Linked DNA regions of Homo sapiens. The protein of the gene in region 3 interacts with the protein of the main gene of each other region in a biochemical or structural test. Each region holds a gene or a part of one and is shown on either strand. Other genes may lie near its edges.

Region 1 (10,213 bases), on a different chromosome or scaffold from region 3:
TGTTTTCTCCCTTTATTACAAAAGCAATACATGGTGCATTTTGAATTAGAGGCTACAGATTGGGGAACAAATTTTTAATGCCTAGCATGGATGTATTTATGCATTTCTATATCACTTTTCCTTTTCATATACATAGTAATCTGCTTTTATTTTTAGGCAGTGTATAAAACACTCATAATCTACATAAGTTTTAAAGCTGTGTAGTATTTCATTATATACATGTACCATGATTTGTTCAACCATTCACCTGTTAGACATTTTAGTTATTTTGAACTTGTGCTGTTCTGTACAGAGCCTCATGAGCATCCTGTGTCTTGATGGCCTTCACACACGCACAGCATACATAGAGACTCTCTTCTAATGTGGCTTTTACTTTTTGGGTCAGGAGGCTGTCAGTCTTCTGCCCTGTAACATGGGGCCTGGTAATTAAGCTCCTGTTAAGAATGGATGTGTCAGGCCAGGCGCCATGGCTCACGCCTGTAATCCCAGCACTTTGGGAGGCCGAGGCGGGCGGATCACAAGGTCAGAAGATCAAGACCATCCTGGCTAACACGGTGAAACCCCTTCTCTACTAAAAAAAAAAAAAAAAATACAAAAAATAAGCCGGGTGTGGTGGTAGGCACCTGTAGTCCCAGCTACTCGGGAGGCTGAGGCAGGAAAATGGCATGAACCCAGGAGGCAGAGCTTGCAGTGAGCCGAGATAGCACCACTGCACTCCAGCCTGGGCGACAGAGTGAGACTCCATCTCAAAAGAGCGGGGGGAATGGATGTGTCAGTGTCAGGGTTAAACCTGAACATGGGGGTGGAAACAACTGGCCTAGTTCGAGAAACAAGCTATATTCTGTGAGTGGGCTCTGTATCAGAGTTGGCCTTTCTGCCTGCACTGTCCTGCTTCCCCCACAGGTGTGCCTTGAAGGGGAGATTTCTCGCCAGTCCATCTTGAACAGTCTGTCTCGAGGCAAGAAGGCTTCAGGGGACCTGATTCCATGGACAGTGTCAGAACAGGTGACGGGCTTTCCCTGGTGTGTCTGAGGGAAGCTGGTGGTGTCCAAAGATGTCTGTGTTGCTAAGTTACTGGTTTGTGTCTCCCACACAGTTCCAAGATCCAGACTTTGGTGGTCTGTCTGGTGGAAGGGTCGTTCGCATTGCTGTTCACCCAGATTATCAAGGGGTAATGTGTCCTCAGGCTCCCCTGAAGCCGTGTTGCTGGCGGTGCTTTAGGGTGGGGGTACTTGGTGGCTGGAATAAGAAGCTGGTCAAGCAGAAGCAAGTGAAGTGTAGGCACTTCCCTGCTCTGGAGAATTGAGCCAGGGTTCGGGGTGGGTGGGTGGACAGGATGATGGCATATGCTCACTCTTCCTTTGTGAGAACGAGGACTTGTGAACCAGACCTGCATAACAAAATTACCTTCTTAGAACACCTCACTGAGTAATTGGCTGTAGAAACTTCCTTTTCAGGCAATGGTACAGAAACTGCCTCTCATTTGGGCTTGCCCATCTGGAGACCAGAAAGCACAGCCATCCTTACCCTCAAGTGGCTGTTCTTGATGAGCTAGACCAGTGTTAAGAACTCGGGTCACACTACTTTCAGTCTTAAGTGTCTCTGCTTTGACCTCACTCAGGGTTTTCATTGGTTCTCTTGCCCCGTGCTGTTTGACAGGGAGGGAAGGTTCTCTAGAAGCAATGCAGGGGAGTCACTGTGGCTTAGACTGAGAGCAGCTCTCTTCCCTCGGCCTCTTCCCCTTCACGTTTGCTCCTAGATGGGCTATGGCAGCCGTGCTCTGCAGCTGCTGCAGATGTACTATGAAGGCAGGTTTCCTTGTCTGGAGGAAAAGGTCCTTGAGACACCACAGGAAATTCACACCGTAAGCAGCGAGGTAAGCATCTTTCGACAGACCTCCTGTGTCCTGGTTCTTGGGAGGATAATTCTCTGGGTTTTTAGGGGCATCAACAAAAACCAGTCCAGAGCTTTGGACCCCTCTCTCATTTTCTTCTGCTGCTTTCTCCTACCGAACACTTTAGATCCTCAGATCAGTATCATTGGGATCATCTGGCAGCTTGTTAAAAATGTAAATTCTTGAGCCCCACTCCAGACCTACTGAATCAGAAACTCTGGGGTAGACCCTGTAATCTGTAGTTTAACAAGATTCTCAGGTGATTCTGATGCTCATTCAAGTTTGAGAATCACTGCTCTATAATCTCTTTCATCCTACACCAGACTAAGGGAAGTTCTGTCATTCCTTGATAAGAATGACTAATACTAGTAACTGTGACAGCCTTTCATGTGCATTCATTGATTTTCATAGTATGTATATTTGAGAGCTAGACAAGGGGCTTTTATTTAAGTTGAGGCAGCTGGGCAACATGGCGAAACTCCATCTCTACAAAAAATACAAAAATTAGCCGAGCATGGTGGTGCACGCCTGTAGTCCCAGCTACTTGGGATGCTGAGGTGGGAAGATTGCTTGAACCCCAAGGTTGAGGCTGCAGTGAGCTGTGATCTCGCCACTGGACTCTGGCCTGGGTGACAGAGCCAGACCCTGTCTCAAGCAATGAAAAAAAAAGTTCAAGCTCAGAGGTTTGTCACTTCCTAAGGCTGTCAGGTGATAGAACCTGGACTTCATGCTGGATCACAGGAGCCTGCCTGTCCCTTTGTAAATCTGTTGGGCATTTTTTTTTTTTTTTGAGATGGAGTCTTGCTCTGTCTCCCAGGCTGGAGTGTAATGGCGTGATCTCAGCTCACTGCAACCTCTGCCTCCCAGGTTCAAGCAATTTTCCTGCCTCAGCCACCTGAGTAGCTGGGACTACAAGCACACACCACCGTGCCTAGCTAATTTTTGTATTTCCAGTAGCGATGGGGTTTTGCCATGTTGGCTAGGCTGGTCTCAAACTCCTGACCTCAGGTGATCCACCCGCCTCAGTCTCCCAAAGTGCTGGGATTACAGGCATGAGCCACCACTCCCGGCCTCTGTCAGTCGTTTCTAAACTCTTTGGCTGTCTTCCTGCATTCTAGAGGTCTGAAGCAGTGTGATTCTATGCATGTTGAGGTGTTTTGAGAATGATTGCTTGACTCCGGTGTTCTCATAGTTTGAAAACCACAGCAATAAACCAAGAAACCTCTCCCAGTTTTTGTTGTGCTAAGTCCAGAGTGCGCTGCGGCAGGGTGCTTGACGATGTCTCTCTCCCTCTGCTGAATGGACTGTGTTCTCTCCTTGGCATCTTCCCAGGCTGTCAGCTTGTTGGAAGAGGTCATCACTCCCCGGAAGGACCTGCCTCCTTTACTCCTCAAATTGAATGAGAGGCCTGCCGAACGCCTGGATTACCTGGGTGTTTCCTATGGCTTGACCCCCAGGCTCCTCAAGTAAGTGCCTGCCCTCCTTCCACGGCATCACTCCTTGGCATTGAGAAAGAAGAGTTCTGTGGGCTGTGTGTCTCTGTTGGTAGCTGGTATCGGTGCTAGCCTGCTATTTGTGGCGTGCTCTTCCTGGCTCTTGCCCTTGTGTGTCTATCAGCCACTCCCCAGAGGCCACACACAGTGACCTACTGTCTTTGTATCTTTGCAGGTTCTGGAAACGAGCTGGATTTGTTCCTGTTTATCTGAGACAGACCCCGGTGAGTGAGGCATCCAGCAGAGGAGAAGTTTAGGTTTACCGTTATGGTAGGTGACAGGCCTGTCCTTGCAAAGAGCCCTAGTGCCTCCCTGCTGCATCGCTCTGAGCAGGTGGCTGTGCCTCTGAAGAGGTTTATTCTGATGGACATGGAAACAGCCATCCTCAGTGACAGGCCACATCATCACACATTTCTTCTCCGACTACACGGTGCATGCGTTGAGCTTAGTCATAAAATGGCAGAGGTACACGTGGACTTGTTCATCAGATTCTGGGAAAGGAGAGTGGACAGGAGGATCAAGGGTAATTCCTAGAGTTTTGGCTTGAGAAACTGGGTGTTGGAGGTGCTGTCGGAGATGGGACTCACTGCAGGAGGAGCAGATTTGGAGGGAAGAGTGGGAGTTCTTTTTTGATGTTAATATGAGATGCCTATTGGACATCCAAGTGGAAATGTGGACTAGGCATTCATTTGACTACAGGAATTTGGAGGTAGGGAAGTTTGGGGCTAGAGATGGAGCTTTGGGAGCCATCAGCATATTCATAATAGAATGCACTGCAGGAGGGCACGGAGCTCTTGTCTGTTGTGTTCATTGCTGTATTCCTCGCACTTAGAGTAGCAATTGCTGTGTAGTTTGTGTTCAGTAAATACTTTTGTTGAGTGAATGAAAAATATCTGGAGCCAATGAAAGGATGTGAGAGTGACTCCTTGGACCCTAACGTTTAGAGGAATGAAGAGGAGGACACAGCACATACAAGACTGAGAAGGAACAGCCCTGATGCGCAAGAGAAAGTCGGGTGTGGTGTCACACGTCAAGGTGAAAAAGTGGGAATGGGAGTCAGCCCTGTTGAGAGGATGAGGAGGATGAGGACAGCTGGCCATTGGATTTGTCAGCAGCGGTGAGCTGCATTGAAGCAGCTGCAGTGGAGTGGAGGCTTTGGCCTGGCCAGAGGGAAGAGGAGGTGAAGAACTAGAAGGGGAACAGGCGACTCTTTCAGGAAGCGAAAGGGAGCAGAGAAACAAGGTCGCTGGAGGGAGATGGGCGCTAAAGAAGGATTGTCCGATGGGAGATTCTAGAGAATGTTTTTTGCTGCTGGGTTCGATCCTGCAATTAGTGGTATGGGTGAGGGGGGCTGACTGCCAGAGTGCAGGCCTTGAGGAGGTGGTGGGTGGGACTCGAGATTCAGGAAGAGAGGTGACCACCTACTTCATCCTTCGGAACAGGGAAGGCAGAGAGCGTGGGAATGGAAGGCATCAGTTGGCTGGCTGATCTGGGGTTGGGAGGATGAAGACATTGTCTTCTGAGTGCTTCTGTCTTCCCAGATGAGGGGAGTCCATCGGCTGAGAGGGAAGTGTTGGAGGTTTGATTTTGGAGAGGGCAAAGTCAGTATCAGAGGCTAGTGTCCAGTGTCCGTCCGAGGGTTTAAAGTGGGACTGGTGAGGACTGCTGGGTGTTGGGCTGCTTCCGTGCAGGCAGGGAGCTGCAGAGATGGGTTGAGTCTCTGTCAGTACATTTGGTGGAGGCTGAGGATGTAAGTTTGGCTGTCAGCTGCAAGGAGAACGCAAGCTAGTGAGCTGTGGTGTGGTCTGCGGTGTGTCCGTGTGGTCTTGCACTGTGCACTGTTCATTTGTGACTTGGTGGTGTTTTTATGGTGTGGGGCTTTGTTGTTATGGAGTAAAAAATGTAAAAATAGTCACAATTTTAACACCTAAAGAAGCCTGCACTTGCAGACTGGCTGCCAGCACTGAGGTGTAGGTTTTGGCCCTGGAGTTCCTGCTGTGAGGCATCAAACCCATGTTGACTGGATTGTGTGGCGCTTAAGCCCTAATGACTGAGTTCAGCATCTACCTGAGAGGAGCACATATTTCCCTCCCGCACGTCCCGAGCAAGAGGCAGGCCCAGAAGAGCCAGCAGCTCTTCTCTGTGTCTGTGACACTTTTGAGGAGATTGCAGGACAGTGATCTTTGCAGCTGTTGTGTGTGAACTGAGGTGATATGAGGAAGGTGAAGGCGAGGGCTGTTTGAGAAGGGCGCCTACCCCCAGCCTGGAAAGAAGGAGAGGCCTGCGGAAGCACTAAGCCTTTCTTCTCTGAGTGTTTACCCTTCATCAATGATGGGTTATTCAAAAAAAGGGGGTTCTTGGTGCCAGTTAAACCTCTGTGTTGCCCAGAATGACCTGACCGGAGAGCACTCGTGCATCATGCTGAAGACGCTCACTGATGAGGATGAGGCTGACCAGGGAGGCTGGCTTGCAGCCTTCTGGAAAGGTGACTGAGGAGTAGGGGTTTGGGGGAGACAATGAGGTGATTGGGGGCTGCCGGGGATGCCTCCAGACCTCTAACTCTGCGTGATGGCACCCCACAGATTTCCGACGGCGGTTCCTAGCCTTGCTCTCCTACCAGTTCAGTACCTTCTCTCCTTCCCTGGCTCTGAACATCATTCAGAACAGGAACATGGGGAAGCCAGCCCAGCCTGGTGAGCCGGGTGGGGACAGGGAGGAGGGTTGGGAATGGCTTGGCTGTGTGGGAGGTGGGTGTGGTGTCCTAGGAAGGGTTTGGGCTGGAAATTGAGGGACTGGTTCTAGCCTGCAGTCACTCGCTGGTCACCACCCGCTTGCCAGGCCCCTGCTCTGTCCCAGGCTGTGCTGTCTTTCATTTTCATGGTAAGACTCTGGCTGTGCAATTTAATGTCAGAGGTGTCCATTTAGTTCATGTAGCTGGTTGGTTATGGAGGCCGATTTACATCTGTGCTCTAGGGGAGTGAGGTGCTCCATCTCTGAGGTTTAGTTTCCTGATTCATGAAATTGTAATAAGAATATGCTGCTAGCCTTCTGTAGCCAACAGCACACAGAAGTGCTTTGTGCATACAGATTGTTTGAATACTTAAAAAACAAAAAATGTGTAAGAGATTAGTTTTATTGCATATTTTATATATAAATATTTAGGTATAGCATGCATATATGTGTATATGTGTGTGTATATACTTTTTTGCCAATTATATTTTGATGGAGAAATCCGTATATCTTGAGCTGGGCAGAGCTTACACACTTTCTGTGACACCAAATGAAGTGACAAAGCAGGGAAAGAGTGTAGTTGTGTTCCCCTAACCCTGGGCCACAGGGAGCTTTTCCTTGGTCCATGTGTTCAGTATGGGAACTGAGCAAGGGTCCTGTGGCAGCCGTCCCCTCCCCACACGTGGCCTGGAGCCGCCCCTTCTATGGCAGGAGCAGGTTTGGTGCCCCTCTGGGCCAGGGCTGTGTGGTATGGCTGCCAGGCCCTGTTAGATGCTCCTGTGTGTTAGGGTGCCGCCTGGGGGCTGTGTGCTATCTCATGAGGGCGCCGGGTGACCTAACCTGTCTAGCTCTCTATCCCATGGACAGCCCTGAGCCGGGAGGAGCTGGAAGCACTCTTCCTCCCCTATGACCTGAAGCGGCTGGAGATGTATTCACGGAATATGGTGGACTATCACCTCATCATGGACATGATCCCGGCCATCTCTCGCATCTATTTCCTGAACCAGCTGGGGGACCTGGCCCTGTCTGCGGCTCAGTCGGTATGCTATCTGTTGCTTGCGTGGAGGAGAAGCGAGGATTGTGGAGCTGTTCATTTGCTGGGTGTTGGGTTGGGCACTTGGACATAATTGTGTGCCTTTAATTCCTCATACATCTGATAGGTGGGTAGTGGCATCCTCATTCTACAGGTCAGGAAACCTGGGCTCTGAAGTCGAGTAATGTGTCCAGCCATACAAAGTGAGAGAGCTGCAGCTTCCACCCCACTACGTTGCCTTGACACTTAACTCCACCTTAGCAGAGGTTCAGGAACATCCCAAACTTTTAATGTAGTTGTGAAGCAGGTATTTGTCAGGATAAAAGTTACTTTGGGGATTTTAGGAAGACAGCATTTCTTGGTGGTCTCAGTAACAGGATGAAAGAGAAGATGCCAATATACACAGTGCTAGTCTACCTTTGTACCAATAGCTTTGGTCAAGAGAGTACTCTGGTTCTTGGCGCCATTTTAATGGGCAAGGGCGTGTCCTAGAGGCCCACCCAGCAGATTTTCCATCCTTTAGGCTCTTCTCTTGGGGATTGGCCTGCAGCATAAGTCTGTGGACCAGCTGGAAAAGGAGATTGAGCTGCCCTCGGGCCAGTTGATGGGACTTTTCAACCGGATCATCCGCAAAGTTGTGAAGGTAACCTCAGCCTGAGGGCAGGGGCTTGATGTCTCTCAAATAGTGCAACAAACCCACTCCCTGCTCCCGAGATGAACACATGTTAGCATTTAGCTGTGTTTGCTGCATCTCGTCACACACACACACACACACACACACAAATCCAGGACTTCAGAACACATGTTAGCATTTAGCTGTGTTTGCTGCATCTCATCACACATCACACACACACACACACACACACACACACACACACACACACACGTGCGCGCGCAAATACAGGACTTCAGCTCTAAAGAATCTGTGAAGTTCTGTGTCCTCTCCCAGAGGCATCCCTATTAGGAATTTGGTACATATCCAGTCTGTGTTCTTCAGCTCTTCCCGCTAATATCCACATTCCTAAACTGTAGAGTGTTGCTTTGTGTCTTCAAAATGCACACCTTTCTATAAGACACCAAGTGTCTGGGTCACGGGTGACTGGGTCCCTGCTGCTCCTTCATCTTCTGCTTCTCTGTTGGTTGTCTTTTGTAGCTATTTAATGAAGTTCAGGAAAAGGCCATTGAGGAGCAGATGGTGGCAGCGAAGGATGTGGTCATGGAGCCCACGATGAAGACCCTCAGTGACGACCTAGTATGTCCCTGCTCATGGCCTCGGGAGTCCCAGCATTTCCATCAGTTGCCTTAGGCTGTGAATTCAGACTGTCTTCCCCTTCCCCTTTAGAAAGAGTCCTCTGCACTAATTGAGCTAAGTGCTATTCTGTAGGTTTAATTGGACAAACGGACCCAGCATTGTCTGAGCACACACAGGCCTAGAGTTGTGCCTCCCACTGATTGTGTGTGTGTGTTGTGAATGTAGGATTCCAGCATCTGTTGGAAATGTTTTGTCTTTTTTGGTGACTTCTTAAATGCATAGTTTATAACAGAGCTACCTTAAAATAATCAAAGCTGCCTACAAGGTTTTTGCAGGTAGATGGAAGAGAAGGAAATGTTTTCTCATCATTGTGCCATTCCACCCCAGCTTCACCTTTTCCTGTGTTTGGTTCAATCCTTGACTCTGACTTAGTCTCTTTATGGGTCCTTAACCACAGGATGAAGCAGCAAAGGAATTTCAGGAGAAACACAAGAAGGAAGTAGGGAAGCTGAAGAGCATGGACCTCTCTGAGTAAGGCTTGTGGGAAGCAGAGGGTTTGCCTTGGCTTCTGGGGCCCTAAGAATCTGCCTACACGTTTCTTCTAATCATATCCCACGTGCCCTGGAAAGTGTCTTTCATGGGATCAGTTTTAGGGATGCTAACAGTTCTATTTGACCTTCTAATTGCCTGTTTGTATAATTTTGGAAGAGTTGGGTTCCGGAGACTAGTGCCGCCACTTTGACTTACACATTGCACTCTCTGATCCCCAAGGCTCCAGGTCACACCTCGGGTCCTTCCAGGAGTGGGGGTGCCGATTGGATGAGCAGGCCCTTTAATGGTTACTTACTCTATTTGGCTTTTACGTGTGACTTTGTTTGAAGAAAGGATTCTACTGCTAAAACCAACCAAACAAGCAAAACACCCCTTGCTCTAAAACCGTCTGGGAATCCTAGTCCCTTTTGTGCTTCAGCTGTAGTGGTGCTGCCTCTCCCTCCACTGCCTGGATTGATGTGAATAATAACTCCAGAATTCATGGCCTCTGAGCCTCTGTGACCTGTAGTCCTGTTTCTGGGTCATTAGTGATGGTGGCTGCTGGGTATGTGAGGTGGAGGTGGCCAGGAGTCCTTGGACAGAGAATCGAGCTCTAGTTTTTGCCCTCAGCTTTGCAATATCAAAACCTTGATTTGCCAGGACTGCTAAATCTGAAAGAGAAGGGAGGGAGGGGAGAGGCACAGTTCAAGGGCTTGTGGACAAATGCTTGGAGGTGGGAGTGAGTGAGAAGATTGTGGGGGTGACAGGAAGCTTCTTTGGTGGATGTTAATGAGAGTCATGTGGGAAGAGCCAGGCAGGCTGCCTTCTGTGCAGGACTGTCCTCACTGACCCCTGCCAGCAGGCCTGGTGACCCTCGCTCCTGTGGAGCTTCTATCCATAGAGCTAAGCACCATGTCTCTTGGCCCTCCTGCATGCTTGTCCCCTCTGTCCTTTCTGCTGTTCAAATGCTGACACAGCTCAGCCTGGCTTTCATGACAGGAAGTGTCTGATAAGAATGTTGTCACTGTCGTTATTTTCTCTTAAGCAGTCCCCTCTTCTTTCTAGCAGGCTTTGATAGTTCCCTTCTTTTTTTTAGATACATAATCCGTGGGGACGATGAAGAGTGGAATGAAGTTTTGAACAAAGCTGGGCCGAACGCCTCGATCATCAGCCTGAAAAGGTGAGGGCCCAGGGTCTGATGTGCATCTGGCGGAAGAGGCATTCTGGCCTCTCTGCTTCTCTTTAACTTTGACTAGAAAATAGGAGGTTGGAGCAAAAGC
Region 2 (10,213 bases), on a different chromosome or scaffold from region 3:
ACTTATAAGTGGGAGCTAAACATTGGGTACAAATGGACATAAAGATGGGAATAGTGGACACTGGGGACTACAAGATGGGAGGGTGGAAGGAGACCAAGTGTTAAACTACAAATTGGTGGCTGGGCGCCGTGGCTCACGCCTTTAATCCCAGCACTTTGGGAGGCCGAGGCAGGCAGATCACGAGGTCAGGAGATCGAGACCATTGTGGCCAACATGGTGAAACCCCGTCTCTACTAAAAATAATAAAAAAAAATGGCTGGGCGTGGTGGCGCACACCTGTAGTTCCAGCTACTAGGGAGGCTGAAGCAGGAGAATTGCTTGAACCAGGGAGGTGGAAGTTGCAGTGAGTAGAGATCGTGCCACTGCGCTCCAGCCTGGTGACAGAGTGAGACTCCGTCTCAAAAAAGAAAAAAAAAAAGCAAAAACTACATATTGGGTGCTGTGGCTCATGCCTGTAATCCCAGCACTTTGGGAGGCCAAGGTGGGCGCATCACTTGAGGTTAGGAGTTCGAGACCAGCCTGGCCAACATGGTGAAACCCTGTCTGTACTAAAAATTAAAAAAAAAAAAATTAGCTCTGTGTGGTGGCGTGCACCTGTAGTCCCAGCTAGTCCAGAGGCTGAGGCAGGAGAATCACTTGAACCTAGGAGGTGGAGGTTGCAGTGAGCCGATATGGCGCACCTGCACTCCAGCCTGGGCTGGTCAGGAGATCGAGACTATCCTGGCTAACATGGTGAAACCCCATCTCTACTAAAAACACAAAAAATTAGCTGGGCGTGGTGGCGGGCGCCTGTAGTCCCAGCACATATCGAAATATCACAGTACGAGATGGTGCTAACACTGACATAATGTTTAAAATTATGTTTTGAGGATTGGTGGTTGTATTAAACTGTATATAAGATTAAAAATAAATTGCCAGGGCATATTACTAAGTGCTAGTGAACATAGCCCATTGAGTCAGGGGACCTGTATAGAACTGATGCTTTACCAGAGTTGTAAGTCCTTATGTAATCTGGTTCTGTGTCAGGTGATCTCATTTCTTCCTACTCTTCTGATTCACATGGACCTTACTATTTTTGGAACGCATTAAGCACCTTCCTCTCTCAGGGCTTTGCATGTGTTGTTCCTCTATTTGGAATATTCTTTTATATATTTCTAGGACTGACTTCTTCCCTTGGCTTTAGGTTTCTGCTGAAATATCACTTTTTTTTAGAGAAATCTTACCTGTTCCTGCTGCTCTCCTTCCATCACTTTCCATTCTCTTACCCTTTAATTTTCTGCATACTACCTGACTGGTTTTTTGTTTGATTCCTTTCACTGCAATATAATCTCCACAAGGGCAGGAACTTTATTTTATTTGATGCATTCATTATCTTTAGTGACTGGAGCATAGTAGGTGTTCATGTCAATGAATGAATGTTAGGAAGTATATGGTTTTCACTAAATGTAGTATTGGGTCTTACAGGAAAAATAAATACATGTTGGAGATGAATATTGTCTCTGGAAAGTACCTGCACTTAAATAAAATAGGAAACTGTTGGCAAGATACTCCACTCTGATTTTGACTAGTCTGGTTACTTCCTTGTGATTTTTCTAACAGGTTTCAGGAGTCAAGGGATTTGTTGGAATCCTAATTTAGAGGCCCTTTTTTTCTGGGACTCTTTTTTGACTCAGAAGTGATTACCTGCTGGCTTTCTGGTTTTATAGCCTATAGTTCCTCTGCACTATTATTTAAATATATGTTCCATAATTTTTCAAAGTATATTATCTGGTATTTACTCAACCTGTCTTTTACACACTTGATAATTTTTGTTTTGTTTTGTTTTGTTTTGTTTTGTTTTGTTTTTTGAGACAGAGTCTTGCTCTGCCCCCAGGCTGGAGTGTAGTGGCACCATCTTGGCTCACTGCAACCTTCGCCTTCCAGGTTCAAGTGATTATCCTGCCTCAGTCTCCCCAGTAGCTGGGACCACAGGCATGTGCCACTACAGCCAGTTGGTTTTTTTTTTTAAGTTTTCTTTTGTAGAGTTGGGGTCTCACTATGTTGACTGGGCTGGTTTTGAACTTCTAGCCTCAAATGATCCTCCCCGCTTGTCCTCCCAAAGTGCTGGAATTACAGGCATGAGCCACTGTGTTAGGCCCATAATTCTTAATTATCTTAAGGATTCTGCCTGAGCTTTGGCAGAGCTAGGATTCTGTTTACATGCTAGTTTGAGAAATACTTGCCTTATTGGATGTGTTTAAACTGTTTTTTTTTTTTGTTTTCTTATAGACAGTTCAAGAAGAAGAAAGAGAGATTTACAGACAGCTGCTACAGATGGTCACAGGGAAACAGTTTACTATAGCCAAACCCACCACACATTTTCCTTTACACCTGTGAGTCACAGAAGCATATTTCAGATGAATTTAATTCTACAATTTATTACTTGATATTGAAACAATATTCTTCTCTTGCTAGGTCTCGATGTCTTAGTTCCAGTAAAAATACTTTGAAAGACTCACTGTTTAAAAATGGAAACTCTTGTGCATCTCAGATCATTGGCTCTGATACTTCATCATCTGGATCTGCCAGCATTTTAACTAACCAGGAACAGCTGTCCCACAGTGTATATTCCCTATCTTCTTATACCCCAGATGTTGCATTTGGATCCAAAGATTCTGGTACTCTTCATCATCCCCATCATCACCACTCTGTTCCACATCAGCCAGATAACTTAGCAGCTTCAAATACACAATCTGAAGGTAAACATGGTATCATATAACTACATTTTTAGTCCTAATAGCCAATTAACTGTTCATTAGCTCATTACAGGCAACATTGTAATATACATATAAATAAATGAGCATACCGAATCTGAAAATATGAAGTCCGAAATGTTCCAAAATCTGAAACTTTTTGAATACCAACATGATACTCAGGAAATGCTCAGTGGAGCATTTGGGATTTTGGATGTTTGGATTTGGGATGCTCAAATTGTATAATGCAAATATTCAAAAGTCCAAAAAATCCAAAATTTGAAACTCCTGGTCCCAACCATTTTGGATAAGGGATACTGAACTTGTAAGACATGTACTTACATACTTTAAATACATATGATTCAGTTAACCATGCTGTGAGTAAACTAAATCCACAAATAGGATATTCTTTTTTTCTTACCTCAAGATGCAAATGATTTGATACATTTTATTTAAACAACTTCCTAAGTACAGGCTAGAGTCAAAGTATATATACTCAGCCCAATTGCTTCAGCACTTTCTCTGTTTCTATGACTTTACAGTGGTAAGTAAGAATTCTGAAGTTGTAGGAGTTTTGAAACATCAGATAAATACTGAAGCTTAAGTACTTAGGTTTGTGCGTTTTAGAATGATTGTCAGCATTGGAAGCAAAAAGTTTTCTACGTAACTTTCAACTAACTGAAATATTCACTCTCTTTGCATTCCAGTTAATTAAGGTTTTGTCGTGATAGGTTTGTTTCCTTAATTTCCCCCTTCTTTAGGTATGTATTATGTATCAATTTATGGTATGTACTTAGGTATGCAACTTAAAACAAGTTATAGGTTAAATGGTTAAACATCAGGGATTTTTTGATAGATGGAGCACTAGTCTTTCCCCTCCTTTCTCAGGTTGTTTGAGGTTTTTTTTTTAATCTATTTGTACTTTGTGAAAATTCTCACTCAGGATTAAACTTTTTGGTAGCATCATTGTATAGCTACACATATCCATGAAGACTCTTGTTATATTTTGTGAGGTGATGTACTGAGAACTGTAAAGGAAAAAAAAAAGCCAAAAAACCCAAACTCCTTTAACCTCAGAAACATACATTGTGTTGCAGATACTTAGATACAACTAAGTTGAAACAAATATACTACATTGCACTGTTTAATTACTTTCCTTGTACCATGTAATAAATACTCTGAGGTTCTAATGACAGCACTTTAGAAGAACATGATTCCTGCCTTTGAGTAGTATTCAACAGAGAAAATACATAATAGAATGATAAAATTTGTACTTTTTAGACACCTCCTGGGGTGCTATTTCCTTCCCTGTCCCCCTTCCCTCCTTCTTCCAGTTTCTTTCCCTCTTCCATTCCCCCACCCCTTCTTTCACCTAATTCAGTCGCATTGTAGATCATGAACTACAGTAGTTCCCCCTTATCTGTGGGGGGAGGATATGTTCCAAGACCCGCCCCCCACCAGTGGATGCTTGAAACCATGGAGAGTATACTATATATACCATACCCTATATACATCATGTTTTTTCCTATACATACATACTAATGATTATAAATTAGGTGCAGTAAGAGATCAACAATAATAACTAATAACAAAAATTATAACAATATACTGTAATGAAGATGTTACTTTTTTCTTATTAAATCAAAAACTTTAACCTTTTCACTTAAAGGAAGTAGTGTTTTTTGTTTTTGTTTTTGTTTTTGTTTGTTTTTGAGACTGAGTGTCACTCTGTTGCTCAGGCTGGAGTACAGTGGGACCATCTTGGTTCACTGCAACCTCGCATGTCCTGGGTTCAAGCGATTCTGCTGCCTCAGCCTCCTGAGTAGCTGGGATTACAGGTGTGAGCCATTATGCCCAGCTAATTTTTGTATTCTTAGCAGAGACAGGTTTCACCATGTTGGCCAGGCTGGGGAAGCACTTTTTACGGCTTCTCTTTGGCATACCTGAATTGCCAACATCATTACTTTTGCCTTTTGGGGACATTATTAAGTAAGGGTTACTGAACACAAGCACTGCTATACTGAGACAGTCAATTGGATGACTGAGGTGACTACTAAATGACAGGTGGTGCATACAACATGGATATGCTGGACAAAGGGATGATTTCATGCCTGAAATAGAGCTGGATAGAGATTTTTATCACATTACTTGGAATGGCATGCAATTTAAAATTTACTAATTATTTCTGGAATTTTCCATTTAATATATTTGGACCGCAGTTAACTATGCGTAACTGAAACCATAGAAACCAAAATTGCAGATAGAGGACTACCATGAAGACTTTTAAGGAATCCTGCCATGTTCTTGTTCTCCTGAAACAGACAGGAAGCACAGGGAGCAAGTGCAGCCTAGGAGGAAATTCTGAAGGGCAAATATGTTTGTTATTTCCCAGGGATTTTCTTATTTGTGAAGCAAATTCTTCACTAAGACCTATTTCTGTTCTCAGTGACAATGGACTTGCCTCTCTCTCTCTCCCATCTAACCTTTGTTCTTATGTTATTTTTGTGGAAATAAAATATAGCAAAGTATGGGAACTTAAACTAAGATATCTAGAAAGTATAACTTTGTGGAGTTTTATTACTAATGAAATGCTCTTGTGTTTCTTTAGGATCAGACTCTGTGATTTTACTGAAAGTGAAAGATTCCCAGACTCCAACTCCCAGGTAAACTTTGGAAAAAGCTTGTTCTTTATTAATTAATTAATATATCTTTTTGAGACGGAGTCTCGCTCTGTTGCCCAGGCTGGAGTGTAGTGGCGCGATCTTGGTTCACTGCAACCTCCACCTCCCTGGTTCAAGCAATTCTTCTGCCTCAGCCTCCCGAGTAGCTAGGATTACAGGCGCCCGCCACCACGCCCAGCTAATTTTTGTATTTTTAGTAGAGATGGGGTTTTGCTGTGTTGGCCAGGCTGGTCTCGAACTCCTGACCTCAAGTGATCCACCTGCCTCGGCCTCCCAAAGTGCTGGGATTACAGGCGTGAGCCACCATGCCTGGCCTAAAAGTTTCTTCTTAACATATTGTTTTCCCTTTCTTTAATCACAGCTTTTTCACTAAAAGTTACATAATGTAAAACTACCTCAATTCAGACCTTTCTCACGTATTACTTGAATTATTTTAGTGGCTTTATAATTGTTCTTCCTTCAGCCTCTATTTTGTTCTTCATTCCGTCTTCCACCATACCATGTTCTTGAAACAATTTTTCTGCCTTGCTCTTTTTTCATTTGTTTTTGTTTTTGTTTTTGTTTTGAGACAGGGTCTTGCTCTGTCACCCAGGCAAGAGTGCAGTGGCACAATCATGGCTCACTGGAGCTTTGAACTCCTGGGCTCAAGTGATCCTCTTGCCTCAGCTGGGACCACATATGCATGCCACCATACTTGGCTAACTTTTAAATTTTTCTTTTGTAGAGACGGGATCTTGCTATGTTGACCAGGCTGGTTTTGTACTCCTAGCCTCAAGCGATCCTCCTAACTTGGCCTTCCAAAGTGCTGGGATCGTAGGTGTGAGCCACTGCACCCGGCCTGCTGTGTTCTTTAGTCCATCTTCCATGCTGCAATCAGAGTGATCTTTCAGAATTCATGTCTGATCATTCATTAAAGGGGTTTAATGATTATTTGTTAACCTCCTTCAAGGGTGGTTTATCAGACATTGAATTAAGCTCAGGCTCCTTACTATGGTATACAAAGCACTTCTTTCACAAGCCTCACTTTCTCACTTTTAACAAATATTTACTGAGAGCCTACTGTGTGCCAGGTACTAGTATAAATATTGAGGATAATAGGGAACAATGTGAAGTCCCTATTCTCAAGGAGCTTGCATTCTACTTGAGGGGAAGGATGAAGGACAATGTGAAGTCCCTATGCTCAAGGAGCTTGCATTCTACTTGAGGGGAAGGATAAACAAATGTATATGCCTTGTGATAAGTGCTATGAAGAAAATTGAAGCAGGGTAATATATAGAGTAGGATTGGGAGGATACTATTTGTATAGGGTGGTCATGGAAAGTCTCTGATAAAGTGACTTGAGCAGAGACATGATGGAGGTAAGAGGGAGCCATATGGAAATATGGGACTCTTTCATGTGTTTTTATAAGCTGGACTATTTTCAGTTTGCAAATACAATAAGCATTTCTTACCTTCACATTCAGTGTTCTTTTTGCCTGGAATGTCCTCCGTACCTCAACTTTGTCTGTCAGTAGTGTTTTATCTTTTAGGTCTCAACTCACATGTGAACTTCTGCATGAAACTTTACTTATCTGGAGGTATCAAATACTTCTTCCTCTGTAATACAGTAATAGTAATCCATAGTAACCATTACTATGATTGCTATGCCTTTGCCATATATGGCTTTGGGAATTCAATTGCTAGGATGAGAATAATATCAGTTTTCCGTTGAGAAGATTAAGAGTAATGAAATATTCTTTCTCATCTCAGTTCCCCTACTTCTTTGCAGCTCCCCATATGTTCTAAGCTTTAAATATTTCTTAAAATTCTCTATTTGTTAAGTCTTTTGGGGAGACTTCATAGTTTGGATTCTTTATTTCTTACATCTTTTTTGGAGTCAGATCTGCCTTCTGATCTTGGGTTGGAAAAGGCTTCATGTAGCTTTGGACAAGTTACTCTTATGAACCTCAGTTTCCTTATCAATAAAATGCCAGTATTGATACCTTACACTTAATTGTGAAGATTAACTTACAGATAAAACACTTATTTTTATAAGTGCTTCACATGAAATGCCACAAGATGCATGCAACTTTCTTGGGAAGAAGTTGATCTCTCAGGTAAAGAGTTGATCTCAGTTCCTTAATGGTTCTTTACTAAGACTGCCTTTCCTTTACGGAGGATTTCCCCTAGTGATGACTAAAGAATGAGATGGCAGGAGAAATGGTCTGTTGGGTAAGGCTGTTTGAGCAATGCTCTTTGTCAAAGTTGGTGCCTACTCTGCTGAGGCTTGGTTTATTGGCTCTCTACTCTTAATTCTCCACTACTGCCTCTCAGTTAAGTTCCAGTAATGAAGATCTGCTTTTATTTCCCAGAATATGCTATGCTGTGTCATACCTCTTTGCCTTTATACATTCTGATCCTTCTGTCTGGATGTCCCTTTCTCTCTCTGTCTACTTGGTAAGCTCTTATTTTGCTTCCTTTTCTTTCTTTCTTTTTTTTTTTTTTTTTTTTTTTTTTGTGACAGAGTCTTGCTCTATCATCCAGGCTGGAGTGCAGTGGCACAATCTCTGCTCACTGCAACCTCCGCCTCCCGGGTTCAAGTGATTCTCGTGCCTTACCCTCCAGGGTAGCTGGGATTACAGGCATATGCCACCACACCCAGCTAATTTTTGTATTTTTAGTGGAGATTGGGTTTCACCATGTTGGCCAAGCTGGTCTCGAACTCCTGACCTCCGGTGTTCCACCCACCTCAGCCTCCCAAAGTGCTGGGATTACAGGCATGAGCCACTGTGCCTGGCCTTAATTTTGCTTTTCAAAATCTCATCCAGGTGTTATTTTTTTTTTCTCAGAAGATTTCTTTGACTTTGCCAGATAATGTTAGTTTTTCCCTCCATCCTTCTACCTTGTTTGTTACTAATACTTTTGTATCTGTCACCCATTGCTGGTCATAGTGCTTGGCATATGATGGGTGCTCAGTAAATAAATCTTTGTTAAACAAATGAATTTCCTAGATAGCCTGAAGTGCTCTCTTGAGTAGCCCAAGTACTTATTCCTCCCCCGCTTTTTTTTAATGCTTTCATCTATTGAAAGGCACAGTCGAAAGAACACAGTCTTTGGAATTGGACAGATAAGATTTCTAATCCTAGCCTTTCAAGAGAAATTATCTTTTTGAACCTCCTTTTTCATTTCTGTACAGTATGAGTAATAATTCTTTTTTATATATTATGTTGAGGTTTAAATAGTATAGGGATTTTCATTAGGCTTAACTAATACATAAAACATCTAGAGCAGAGTTTTACATGTAGAGCACTAAGTATGTGCTCAAAAACATTTGCAGTTATTATTACTATATGCCTCAATTATATGAGAAATAATGCATCTCTTTGGAAAAGCAGATTTTCCCTGCATTTTGTTTTCCGGAGCCAGTGGATACCTTGATCCATTGAAGAAAACTGCTTGTCCCTACATTACTTGTTTATTCAAGAAATACTATATGGCTGGGCATGGTGGCTCATGCCTGTAATCCTAGCACTTTGGGAAGGCCAAGGTGGATGGATCACCGGAGGTCATGAGTTCGAGACCAGCCTGGCCAACATGGTGAAACCTCGTCTCTACTAAAATAAAAATAAAAAAAAGAAAAAATTAGCCAGGTGTGGTGGCGGGTGCCTGTAATCCCAGCTACTCAGGAGGCTGAGGCAGGAGAATCTCTTGAACCCGAGAGGTGGAGGTTGCAGTGAGCCGAGATTGTGCCACTGTACTCCAGCCTGGGCAACAGAGTGAGAGTCAAAAAACAAACAAACAACACTAAATGCCTACTCTGTGCCAAGCACTATTCTAGTTGCAGATCATTTTTTTTTTTTTAAGAGACAGAATCTCACTATGTTGCCCAGGCTGGTCTTGAACTCTTGGCTCAAGCGATTCTCCCACCTCAGCGTCCTAAAGCACTGGGATTACAGGAATGAGCCACCATGCCTGGCCTCTGATCCAGGTCTCTTAACTCCCAATTTGATGCTCTGTTTACTTGTTCTCTATATTTAATAGTTTTCTTTGGAAAAGTGTTCACTCTTCTTCTTTGTGTTTCTGTGATAGATCCTGCCTAGTTAGGAGTTTGGAGATAAGGAAGTTTGAGAAAAACAAGAGGCTCTAGGACAATTAATCATGTCTGTGGCTCTGCTCAGCATATCACTTGGGTTGTCAGCAGAGCCACATGGACCTAGAATTGGCCTGTCATCTTTGGAAGGAAGTTGTGTTGCTGATTCTCTGCTTTGGCTCATTGGCTTGTTAGCCATTTGATGTAGATTATTTTGTGTGTGGGGATTTTTAATAAATCTTTCAATCTGAGTCATTTGGGAAGAGCAATGTTCTAGCTTAATGTATTATTTTGAGAAGTGATGTCCTCTTTCACGTAATGTTGGTCTCATGCAAGTAGGGAGCTATGCCAAATGTAGTATCTCTGCTGAACTTTGGGTCACCTTTTTAACTAATATGTATCCATATGATTTTAACTAATATGTATGCATAAGGATTGTGTCTCCTTAATTCCTAGTTACAATTATTTTATGTCATTTAGATTCCTTTTACTTATTCCATACTTGTAAAGCACTCATATAAACAATTTAAATGATTGTTTTTATTGATGAAAATATTTTAATTTTCTCATAAGCCTCCTGCTCATTTGTCAAATTTTTCTTTTCCTACCCATAGTTCTACTTTCTTCCAGGCAGAGCTGTGGATCAAAGAATTGTAAGTTATTTTTGGTATCATTTTTCCTTCTCAATCAGTTCATTTTTAGTTAGAAGAAATCAAACAATTAGCTAATCA
Region 3 (10,213 bases):
TTCTTTCTCACTCAAGAGGGACAGGTGAAACTCAGCAAAGCCTCAAGACTGAGCTCACAGGGCCATCGTCAAACAGACTTGGATCCCTAGGGGACTGTAAGTCCATGAATGTCAGTCAAGTTAGGAGGCTGGCAGGAAGATAGAGAAAAGAGGCTTGTGGGCTGATGGAAATGAGTCGGGGGGGTCCAACCACCCAACTCACCGCACTGGATGGTGGTGGGGATTTCCATAGCTCTCCGGCGTTTGTAACGCAGCTCACTGGATGGGGGCTGGTTCCAGTTGGCAGAGAGGTAGCCAAACTCATCCCAGAACTTGATGATTCCCCTCTGGGCTGGAAAGCAAACACCGATACATCATGTTAGGAGCCAGCCTCTCTCTCTCCCTACATTCAGGTGAAGAGAAAAGGCAGAGGCCCAGCAGCCCAGCCCCATTACCGATGGCAATATCCTTCCAATACTGCGCCAGGTGCTCCCCCATTGCTCGGAGCAGGTGCCGGTACTCCTTGGCATCAGCAAAGTCCTGTTTGTTGTGTGTAGGCTCCAGGACCAGGTAGGGCACATCAACAACCCCAACAACCCCGCCACATGCCCTACAGGGAGAAAGAGAACAAGCTCTGTCACCCCACTGGCAACGCCCTCCTGCCAACTATCCTGGGCTAGACAGCTCTCTGTGGGTAGTACTCACATGCCCCCTTCCAGCTGTGGGCCCACTTTCTCATACATTTTGATCAGTCGGCTACAGTTGTAGATGAACATGCCATCCAGATCCCGGTGTTCAATGTTGACACCAAAAACAAAATTCAGTTCCTTAGGTTCTTTAAGTGCTCTAAGAAGACAAAAAAACTCAAGCAGATCTACACATCGGCACACAAGCACCATAGTGTTTAAGATGTGTTAAGCTTAAGCTTAAACTTGAAACATGTTAAGCCAAAAGTTTTGTATCTCTATTTGATGTGTAACCTGTTAGACTTGATATGGACATGCACTGGGCACCAACTCAAAGCATCCCTAATTAAAAACATGAGTGTGGCTTTTTGGCAACAGGGATGGTTGCCAAACCATTCATATTCATTAAATATGAATTGTTTATTACGAAGCTGCTGCAAATCTGTGCAAAGACAATTATATGTTGGAATAAACACCAGGTTATCGTCATACCTTCCCCAAAATTCCACTAGTATGATAGTAAATTATTATAATTTTTTTTTGAGACATAGTCTTGCTCTGTCGCCCAGGCTGGAGTGCAGTGGTGCGATCTCCGCTCACTGCAATCTCCGCACCCTGCATTCACACCATTCTCCTGCCTCAGCCTCCCAAGTAGCTGGGACTACAGGTGCCCGCCACCATGCCCGGCTAATTTTTTGTATTTTTAGTAGAGACAGGGTTTCACTGTGTTAGCCAGGATGGTCTCGATCTCCTGACCTCGTGATCCACCCACCTCAGCCTCCCAAAGTGCTGGGATTACAGGCGTGAGCCACCGTGCCCGGCCAATTATTATTATTTTAAAAGGCAAAAATTCACAAGAATAATAAGCATGTGCAATAAGACACCATCATGTGATTACTATCAACAAAAACTTAGAGCTGAAAAGCAGATGGATGAGGAGTGGACTGACTTGGAGAGAAAAAACCTGAAACCCATGCCTGTGCCAAGGAGGCCAACAAGAGGCAAAACAGTGAATCAAGCCACAGAGTCCAAAGAGGATCCAGACATGGAGGTGGGACAAGCAGGAAACTTAATGATCCAGGACAAATGCTGGTTCTAAATGCAAAAGTATACAACACTCAATCTCCAGCATTATTCTACATACATAACCACTGAGGAGAAAATGAATATGAAAAAATATATATGTAACATAAAAAATAGGGTCGTATCACCAGGTGGTAGAAGTATAAGGGAGTTTAAAAATGTTACTCCTTAAACATTTTATATTTTTCAAGTTTCATACAATGAGCATTTTATACATCCTTTAAATGAAAAGAAAGAAAGAAAAAGGGAAGAAAAGGTAAGACAGTGCCAAAGGATGGTTTTGGTGCTCGAGCCGAGGTTGTCAGCCCTGCCCTGTCTTTATGACTCAAAAAAGGGCTGAGAGCTAGGATTAAGACTTCCCTCCTGCAGGAGGCATTTGACAAGCATTTGGCATTAAAACAAAGCAGTCTTGGTGACAGAATAGCAACCTGTCAATAATCAGTCCAAAAGCTACGTCAGTTTAAAAGATCCAAGGACAGGCCTGGCACTCACCGCTGCTTGGCCTCCTTGATCCTCTTCTTGACATCGGCTTCTCTGCGCAGAGTGATGGCTCTGTTCTGGACCTGTCGCAACATCACCTGCACACATTGACATCAGGTGAGGGGAGGTGGCACTCTAGGCCACAGCAGGGAATATTGAAACATTACATCTAAGACATCTCAATTTATCTCAAAGATGTAAAACCACACCTGGAAATTTACTTCTTTCTACAGAAAACAGCCCTCACTGGGGACAAACTCAAAAGCTGTGTTTTACTTGACCAGGCTCATGGGACATGGGCTCCTAGTGCCAGAAACGCTGGAGAACAGCCGCCTGGGCCGGGACCTTACCCTGGAGTCCCGCGTGAGGTCTCCACCTAGGCGTACTTCTAATGTCCGAGCTTTGCTCTCTGCCTCCCGCGCCTTCTCTTCAGCTGAAACCCAGAAGAGAACATGGTAAGAAATGCAAAGGTTCAAAACTCTTGGTCATCCCTCCTGGATCCACAGTACTGGACACGAAGTGTGTACACCACCAAGGAAAAAAAGAGTAGGGGGAGCTATGGCTGGTGAGCAATGTGAGGGCAGCCTCTGTGCCTGGACGGCAGTCAGTCACAGAAGGAAAATCTGGCATTCAAACCTATCACGGAGGCCCCAAGGAAACTTTACAAATGAACCAGAACAGGTTTAAAAAAAAAAAAAAAACACCTAAGGCAACCAGTTGAACACTCAGCTTGAGCTGGAAGCTAAAGAAGTCTTCAGCCAATCACTCTCCAACAAGCAGCCGAGAAACCCTGAGAAACCCTGAACAGCGAGAGAGCCCCTGAGATGTTTGCCCTGAAGTCAGGAAAAGCAATTTCACAAGTATTTGCACCAGAGAACTCAGTGGGATTCTTCAATTGGGATAAGCCAAAGAGCTGACACTTTTAGGCCCTATAAATGGCAGAAGAAGAGAAAGTGGAGTGTAGAAAGAAGAAATGCTGAGGGAGTTGGCATGTAGTGAAAGGGGCTGCAAAGGAACTGAACTATGCTTCAGGAGACCAGCCTTGTCCCTGAGTTGTGGACTCAGCCTTTTCCTGGAACCCCACTTTGCCCACAAGCAGCATACCCCAGATGCACACCCCCCCAACTCCTGCACCCAGAGTGGCATTACCAATCCTTGCTACGTGCTCTGCTTTCTTCACCTCCTGCTCCGCACGGGTCTTGAAACGGCTTGACGTGTACTTGTACATCCTGATCAGTAGAAAAAGCAAGCTGATGGCCCACGCAGCAGTGGGGCAGGTGGCACACCCAAGCACAGGAAGCACCCTGCCTTCCTGCCTCCTCCCAAGCTGTGCTGTCCTGGCCCCTCATGATGAGACAAATCCAAGCTCAATTCAGCAAAAAGGTGCAGTTCCTTATTCCACTTGCCCTTAGCCTCCTGCTGTCTTTGATAAGCAACCTCACCATTCACCAGGGTTGTCATTCATCCCACAGCAGAAACAAACCTCAGGAGTAAGCCAAGCCCACTGCTTTCCTATATAGTGTCTAAAGGCCCCTTGGCCCTAAAGCCAAGAGACTCAGACAGCTCACTGAGCCAGGCAGGGCACCCTCCCTGTCACAGAGGCACACATACTCAATGAGCTTAGCCAGCCACCTCCACAGCTGATCTGTCCCTCCTCTAGGACCCAGAACTGACCCTGTGACCAATCACAGGCAACTTAAAGTCCCAAACGTAGTCAGCACTGCCAGAGCCTCTTATACAGCATCCCTCTAACAATGCCCCAGAGAAACGCGGCCACATCCTCGACCCATGGGAGACAGCAGGCCAAGGGGCACTGGCCCCTACCTGGGCTTGTACAGGCAGCAGGAGAGCCTCTTGGTCTGCACCTTGTGCCCATGGATGAAGATCCTCATCCGGGGATCAATATAGAGCACAGCGGCATAGGCACGGAACGAGCGCCGCTCTGGCTTCCTGGAGAGGGCAAAAACAGAGAAGTGCTGTCACCTGCTCCACAACAGGCCTGACCAAGGGCACAACATCCTCTCTGCAGGCTCTCCACCTTTCCATGTTAGGTACTGACTTCTGCTGCTGCCCTGAACTGGTGCTCCCTTAGTGTGAGCACCACATCCCGCCCCTCTCACGTCCTCAGCACAGGCACCCCACAGGCAACTGAGCTGGCCCTACATACTACCCTACCACAGAACACTGGGCAATGAATGTGCTCTCCCCTCTTTCCCTGAAGCCATCTCCTGAGAGCACAAACGCCAGTTCCAGGGCCTCCCTCCCTTCCCAGCCACACTCACGTGCCCTCTGGGGACGTCTCTGCCATCTGGATATCTCTTGGATTTGAGATTATGTCTAGTTCTGGCTCTCCATTATCCATGAGTTTGAGATTGAAGATGATCACCAATGTTCCTGAGAAACAGAAATCTTTTGTCCTGCCAGATCCCCCGGCCCACCCCCACACTACTTGTGATTCTGGAGCTCCCAGATTCTAGGGGCTACAGGCTCAAAGCCTACTTACCGCTGTCCCCAGGAATCTTCATAAACTGGGTCATCACTTCCTCCTCAGTGCGGAATGGAGAGTACTTATAGATGAGTTCTGTCTCAATGGCAAATTTCTCTACATTGTCTGTGACAGGTTCCCGGGTCCGAGCATTCCAGGTGGGCAGTGGGACTATCACCTGTGGAGTAAACATGAGCAGGCACTTTAAGGGAAGCCCCAGAACAGCCTTCCTCCCAAATGTGCATCTCTCTTGTCCCTCCCCACAGCAGCTCCACACTGCCCTGTAGGTGAGGCCCAAGCTCCACAGCCTGGCACCAGAGGCTCTGTGAGCTTCAGGGCTTCTGCCTCTTCCCAAGACTCAGCCACACAAGACTACTTCCTTCAGGAGATGTTGGTTTATGTGCTTAGGGTCTCTGCATGAGAAGTTCCCTGCTTGGGACGTCCCTGGTCATTTTCTTAATTTGGTAAAAATTCTACTCTTACCACTAGGGAAAATATATTTGCAATTATCTAGTGAATCAGTAAATACACATAACATAACCTAAAACTCAGCAATTCCACTCCTAGGTACATACCCTAGGAGAAACTTTTGTACATATGTACCAGTAAACATGTACAAAAATAACCCAGGCCTGGTGCAGTGGCTCATGTCTGTAATCCCAGCACTTTGGGAGGCTGAGGTGGATGGACTGCCTGAGCTCAGGAGTTTGAGACCAGTCTGGGCAACATGGTGAATCCCGGTCTCCACTAAAATACAAAAAATTAGCCGGGCGTGGCAGCGTGCGTCTGTAGCCCCAGCTACTCAGGAGGCTGAGACAGGAGAATTGCTTGAATCTGGGAGGCGGAGGTTGCAGTGAGCTGAGATCGTGCCACTGCACTCCAGCCTGGGCAACAGAGCAAGACTCCATCTCAAAAATAAATAAATAAATAAAAATAACCCAAATATCCATTCTAGAGTGGCCAAATTAAACTGTACAATGGAACACTATATAGTGATACAAATGAACTAACCACTACTAGCATCAACATGGATGAACAACATAAACACAGTGTTATATGAAATAGGATACAAAAAATACCTACAGTAAGAGTCCATTTCTAAAAAATTCACAAATAGGCAAAACTAAACTATTATTTAAAAATGCATACAAGGGTGACAAACTATAGTGAAAAAGAAGGAAATCATTATCACAAAAGTTACCTGAAGGCAGTTCCTTCGGGGGCACAAGAAGAAATATGACTGATGAGGGCACACAGGACACTTCTAACATCAGTCTGTGATGGTGGCAACACAGGTGTTGCCTTTAAAATTGTCCTCTGAACTGCATAAATATTTCAATACACTCTTCCATTTATGTGAAATTTAATTTAAATAATGTCTAAGTGATGTTTTAAAAAAATCCTACTCTTTCTTCAAAAACCCAACCTCATATGCCACTTCCCCAGAGGCTCCTCCCTCGGTGGTTATGAGGCCGCAGCCCTTGCAGAGCCCTGCAGATGGCTGCCTGAAGGATTTCCTCTGCAGAGCAGGCCAGGCTAAGCACCTCAGGGGTTCAAACCCTTAGGAAAAAGGGACTCTGTAATCTTAACAAGTGCTGGGGTGACAAACTGTTAAGAGTTCTGAGACATTTTGCTGGGTTTTTTTATTTTATTTTTTTTGAGACGGAGTCTTGCTCTTGTTGCCCAGGCTGGAGTGCGATGGCATGATCTCAGCTCAATGCAACCTCCACCAATGGCACGATCTCGGCTCACTGCAACCTCCGCCTCCTGGGTTCAAGTGATTCTCCTGCCTCAGCCTCTCAAGTAGCTGGGACTAGGCGTACACTGCCATGCCCAGCTAATTTTTCTATTTTTAGTAGAGACGGGGTTTCACCATATTGGTCAGGATGGTCTTGACCACATGATCTGCCCGCCTCAGCCTCCCAAAGTGCTGGGATTATAGGCGTGAGCCACCAGGCCCGGCCCATTTTGCTGGTTTCTAAGAAGCTTTGTGCTGCAACTATTCAACCCAAGGGCTGGTCTGGACACATTCCTCCTCAACTGAAAATGATCTTATTTTGAAATCTTGGCTGAGTTTGCACTAGAGTACAATCCAAAATAGCGACCTTCTAGCACCAAGTAAGGAAAAAATCTCAACCTAGCCTCTCCACCACGGGAACCGAGTTCCATTTGTGTTCTATAAACCTGTACCTCACTACGCCTCCCATTCTTCACAGCCATCCCAGGTGACAATGGCATCACTTTAAACATTGGCTTTCACTCCCATGGGCACCCCATCCCTCCCCTCAGGAACACTTCTCCTTTAGTTCAATGGTACACTTGCCCAGTTTTCTTCCTACCTTTCTGGCTACCCCTTTGTCCCTCTGGCCCCCTTCTCCTCTCCCCGACCTTTAGATATTGACATGCTCTAGGTCCCAGATCCTCTTCTCACTCTATTCTCTCCATTAGGTGACCTCGTTTGCTACCAAGAATGCTGAAGCCCCCAGACTTCCCCCAAATGCCAGACCCAGACTGCACTTTGCATGTCCAGAAGAAACTTACACTCTTCCCCTCCATACTTCCCCTCTTCATTCTTCCCAATTCCAGAGACCCCACTCCCCAACTGCCACAGCAGAACCTATGAGTCATCCATGACTCCCCTGCTTCGCTTTCGCCTTCTACTAATCAATCAATCACCAAATCTGTGGGTCCCACATCCTAAAGAGATGGAAACTCCATGTATTTCTCTCACCTCCCTTGGGCGAGTACCGCCAAGCTACAGAGCCTGGGCCTCTCAACTGGAACACTCCAACACTCACCCTAACCTTTCCAACCCAATCACCACACAATCGCTACATGGACCTTCTTAAAAGAATCTGATACTGGCACATCCTTGCTTAATAAAGCCCCACACATTCATCAAGGCCCCGAGGTCAAGCCTAACCTGGCCCTCTCTGATCTCCAAAGGCCACCACCTTTCTCCAGGTGGCCCTGCAGCCAAGTCCCCTCCCACAGCCCTCAGGGCCTTAAGCAGGCTGCTTCTACTGACTTCCATACCCTCCTGTCACCATCCTCAGTCCTGTATCAGGAAACATTCCTGAAAACCCCAACCCAGGCTATATTTTCCTATCCTACTTCTCCTAGAAGCCTGCTCTTTCCAGCTGCCACGCTTCTCTCACTCAAGTATGCAGAATGAACTCACATACCACACCAAAAAGGCAGACAAACCCACTGGCTTGCTACGTAATGACGGAAGGCCTACCATTCCCTACCTGAACAAGTTTGCTATGATTAAGGCTCAGATCTAAACAGAACCAGAACAAATTTAATCACAGCTAATCAACACAGATGAATTAAATTGTAAGTCTGAATTCAATTACCTGCTTCTGTGGAAGTTGCGGATTTCTTTCCACAGAACCTCTTAGCCCCCCTTCTTTCAAGCCCTGGCCTCCATGTCTTACATAGGAAAGGAGATAAGAGTCCAGTCTGAGGCTGGGTAGTCCACAGAGCTGCCCTGATCTCCCACAATGAGGGGGCATAGACCTCACCAGAAACAGCTCTGCAGACATCTGAGCCACAAGGAGAATCGGCCAAATGTGTGTTTAGCTTACATAGTCAATTACTAAAATGATTTAAACTCAGAATATTCTGGATTCATTAGTCCTTCCTTCCAGCATAGCAGTAATCACTGGGGCTGTGTAGCAGCCACTCCCAAGACGAGACCCACAGCATCAGCTCTGTTTTCCTGTTCTCCATACACTCACCTGCTTTACTACCTGCCCAGGCTCTCTCTAGGTATCTGAGTCATAGTTTCTGACATAGAGTAACACATTTCTTCAAAAGGAAAATGAGCTCATAGCACATTCCACAAAATCACCACCAAATAGGAAACACCATGATCAGGGAAGCCCAAAATACTCCCCCTGATAAAACAATGTTCCATGGTAACACTCCCCCCAAAATGGAATTCAAGTGGCAGATCTAGAGGAGCTGCAAATCCAACTCTTAATTCCTGCCACTTGACAGTCTCATTCTCGGAAACAGTTGTTCTCTGAAGTGCTCTGAGATTTTGCTTCCTCTCACATTAAAGTTATCTACCTTAACCCCTCAACCAATTCATCCAGCCAGCTAACTGCATAACAATTAGGGGGAATGTGCTCCAATCCTGCAACCCCAAAGAGTCTAGCATTGCAAATAACCTACGAAAACCGCCTGGGCAGACTCAGGAAATGAGGACTGGTGATGCAGACCACGATGATGGGACCTACTTCATCAATGCCTTCTTCCTCATGAAACGTGCGAGACAGGAAGAGGCAGGTCATGGTGTCTTCCTTCTTGGTGAACAGGATAAAATCCTTCCCAATGCGCATTGAGCCCCTGAAAAGGAAACAGAAATGGGTGTTATTCTCCCAGGAGTCAAAAGCTCATCTGCAAAAGAAATCAATCCACTCTGGACATGATTGAAAGTGCCACTGGAGGGCTCTCCTAAAGGCCCCCCCAGGTCCCAGGACTGTGTGCTGAGTTCCACAGCCCTCGTTCCCTCTCCATCCCCCAACACTCCTTCCTCTGCTTTTCCACAGGCCTGTAACTCCTTAGTCTTTACTTACAACGTTCTCAACCACACCATACAGGGTTCTCTCACCACCCTTCTAGGGCGGGCTCACGGCAGACCACCAGCCCCAGGTTAGTCTCACTCCCCCCACAACGCTGAAGAGTAACCCTGCTGTCTTTGAGCTCTTGGTTCATCCCAGACGCATGAGAGGTGCTGTGCCCTCTGACTGTACCACCATCAGACTTTAGTAGCTGGTACCCTCAACACGTCATCTTCCATGCTGACCACCCCCAGTTCCCACCGTGTCCTTCCTCAGCTGACACAAACTCCCCTCCATTGACGAAACGGCAGCAGCACTGTTAAGTGAAAAGCCCAGTGCCTATACTCACAAGCCCGAGAAAACATCAGTATGAACCCAAGGCGCAGTAATACAGAGGGGCTAATAAAATATAATTCTTGACCACAGGATTCAAGGATGCCTGTAATTAGCTCATGTCCAATAACTGGAGCTATCTCCTGTCCCAGAAGTGTTTTGCCACCTCAAGCTCATTATGACACAGGCAGCTCCCTGCTTTTGGATGCAACTGGTTTCTGGGAACTGTGCCTTGAGGCTGATTTCCAAAAGGCAAAAGTCTGAATGGATTCAACTGCTTCCTTCCTCTGTTTGGCCACATTAAGCTGGCTAAGAAGCAGGCAGGGACAGGCCTTTCCAGGCAACGCAGGGCAGGGCAGAAGTGTGAAGCACCAGCAGGGGGACCGCCCTCTGAACAATGGGGCTGTTCAGCTCCTTTCTTCCAGCAGCTTCTGGAGCTTTATGGCTATTATCTCATTAGTCTTTATAACACCCCAGGGAGATGATGGAGGTGGAAAGCCTCATTACTCTCTTCTGTGTACCAATACAAACCAGACTGGCATGCCAAGCACACAAATGAATGTCATGCCCCATTTCCCCAAACACTCAGGAAAACT

Evidence for each region.
Region 1: the proteins of MORC2 (region 3) and NAT10 form a complex in vitro, tested with the Homo sapiens proteins (one study listed by BioGRID).
Region 2: of the proteins of MORC2 (region 3) and SENP1, one has a biochemical effect on the other in vitro, tested with the Homo sapiens proteins (one study listed by BioGRID).

The regions. Positions count from the first base shown.
Region 1 is NC_000011.10:34,133,416-34,143,628, forward strand, and holds part of NAT10 (RNA cytidine acetyltransferase), read left to right. Parts: intron 1-903; coding exon 904-1,005; intron 1,006-1,096; coding exon 1,097-1,171; intron 1,172-1,759; coding exon 1,760-1,876; intron 1,877-3,226; coding exon 3,227-3,360; intron 3,361-3,562; coding exon 3,563-3,611; intron 3,612-5,775; coding exon 5,776-5,872; intron 5,873-5,969; coding exon 5,970-6,080; intron 6,081-6,984; coding exon 6,985-7,157; intron 7,158-7,673; coding exon 7,674-7,793; intron 7,794-8,303; coding exon 8,304-8,402; intron 8,403-8,859; coding exon 8,860-8,933; intron 8,934-10,029; coding exon 10,030-10,113; intron 10,114-10,213. UniProt on the Homo sapiens protein: RNA cytidine acetyltransferase that catalyzes the formation of N(4)-acetylcytidine (ac4C) modification on mRNAs, 18S rRNA and tRNAs.
Region 2 is NC_000012.12:48,066,849-48,077,061, reverse strand, and holds part of SENP1 (sentrin-specific protease 1), read left to right. Parts: intron 1-2,268; coding exon 2,269-2,372; intron 2,373-2,454; coding exon 2,455-2,738; intron 2,739-5,340; coding exon 5,341-5,395; intron 5,396-10,096; coding exon 10,097-10,135; intron 10,136-10,213. UniProt on the Homo sapiens protein: Protease that catalyzes two essential functions in the SUMO pathway.
Region 3 is NC_000022.11:30,937,381-30,947,593, forward strand, and holds part of MORC2 (ATPase MORC2), read right to left. Parts: intron 9,070-10,213; coding exon 8,961-9,069; intron 4,892-8,960; coding exon 4,732-4,891; intron 4,623-4,731; coding exon 4,511-4,622; intron 4,179-4,510; coding exon 4,053-4,178; intron 3,458-4,052; coding exon 3,378-3,457; intron 2,662-3,377; coding exon 2,579-2,661; intron 2,327-2,578; coding exon 2,241-2,326; intron 826-2,240; coding exon 685-825; intron 590-684; coding exon 435-589; intron 332-434; coding exon 203-331; intron 1-202. UniProt on the Homo sapiens protein: Essential for epigenetic silencing by the HUSH (human silencing hub) complex. Recruited by HUSH to target site in heterochromatin, the ATPase activity and homodimerization are critical for HUSH-mediated silencing.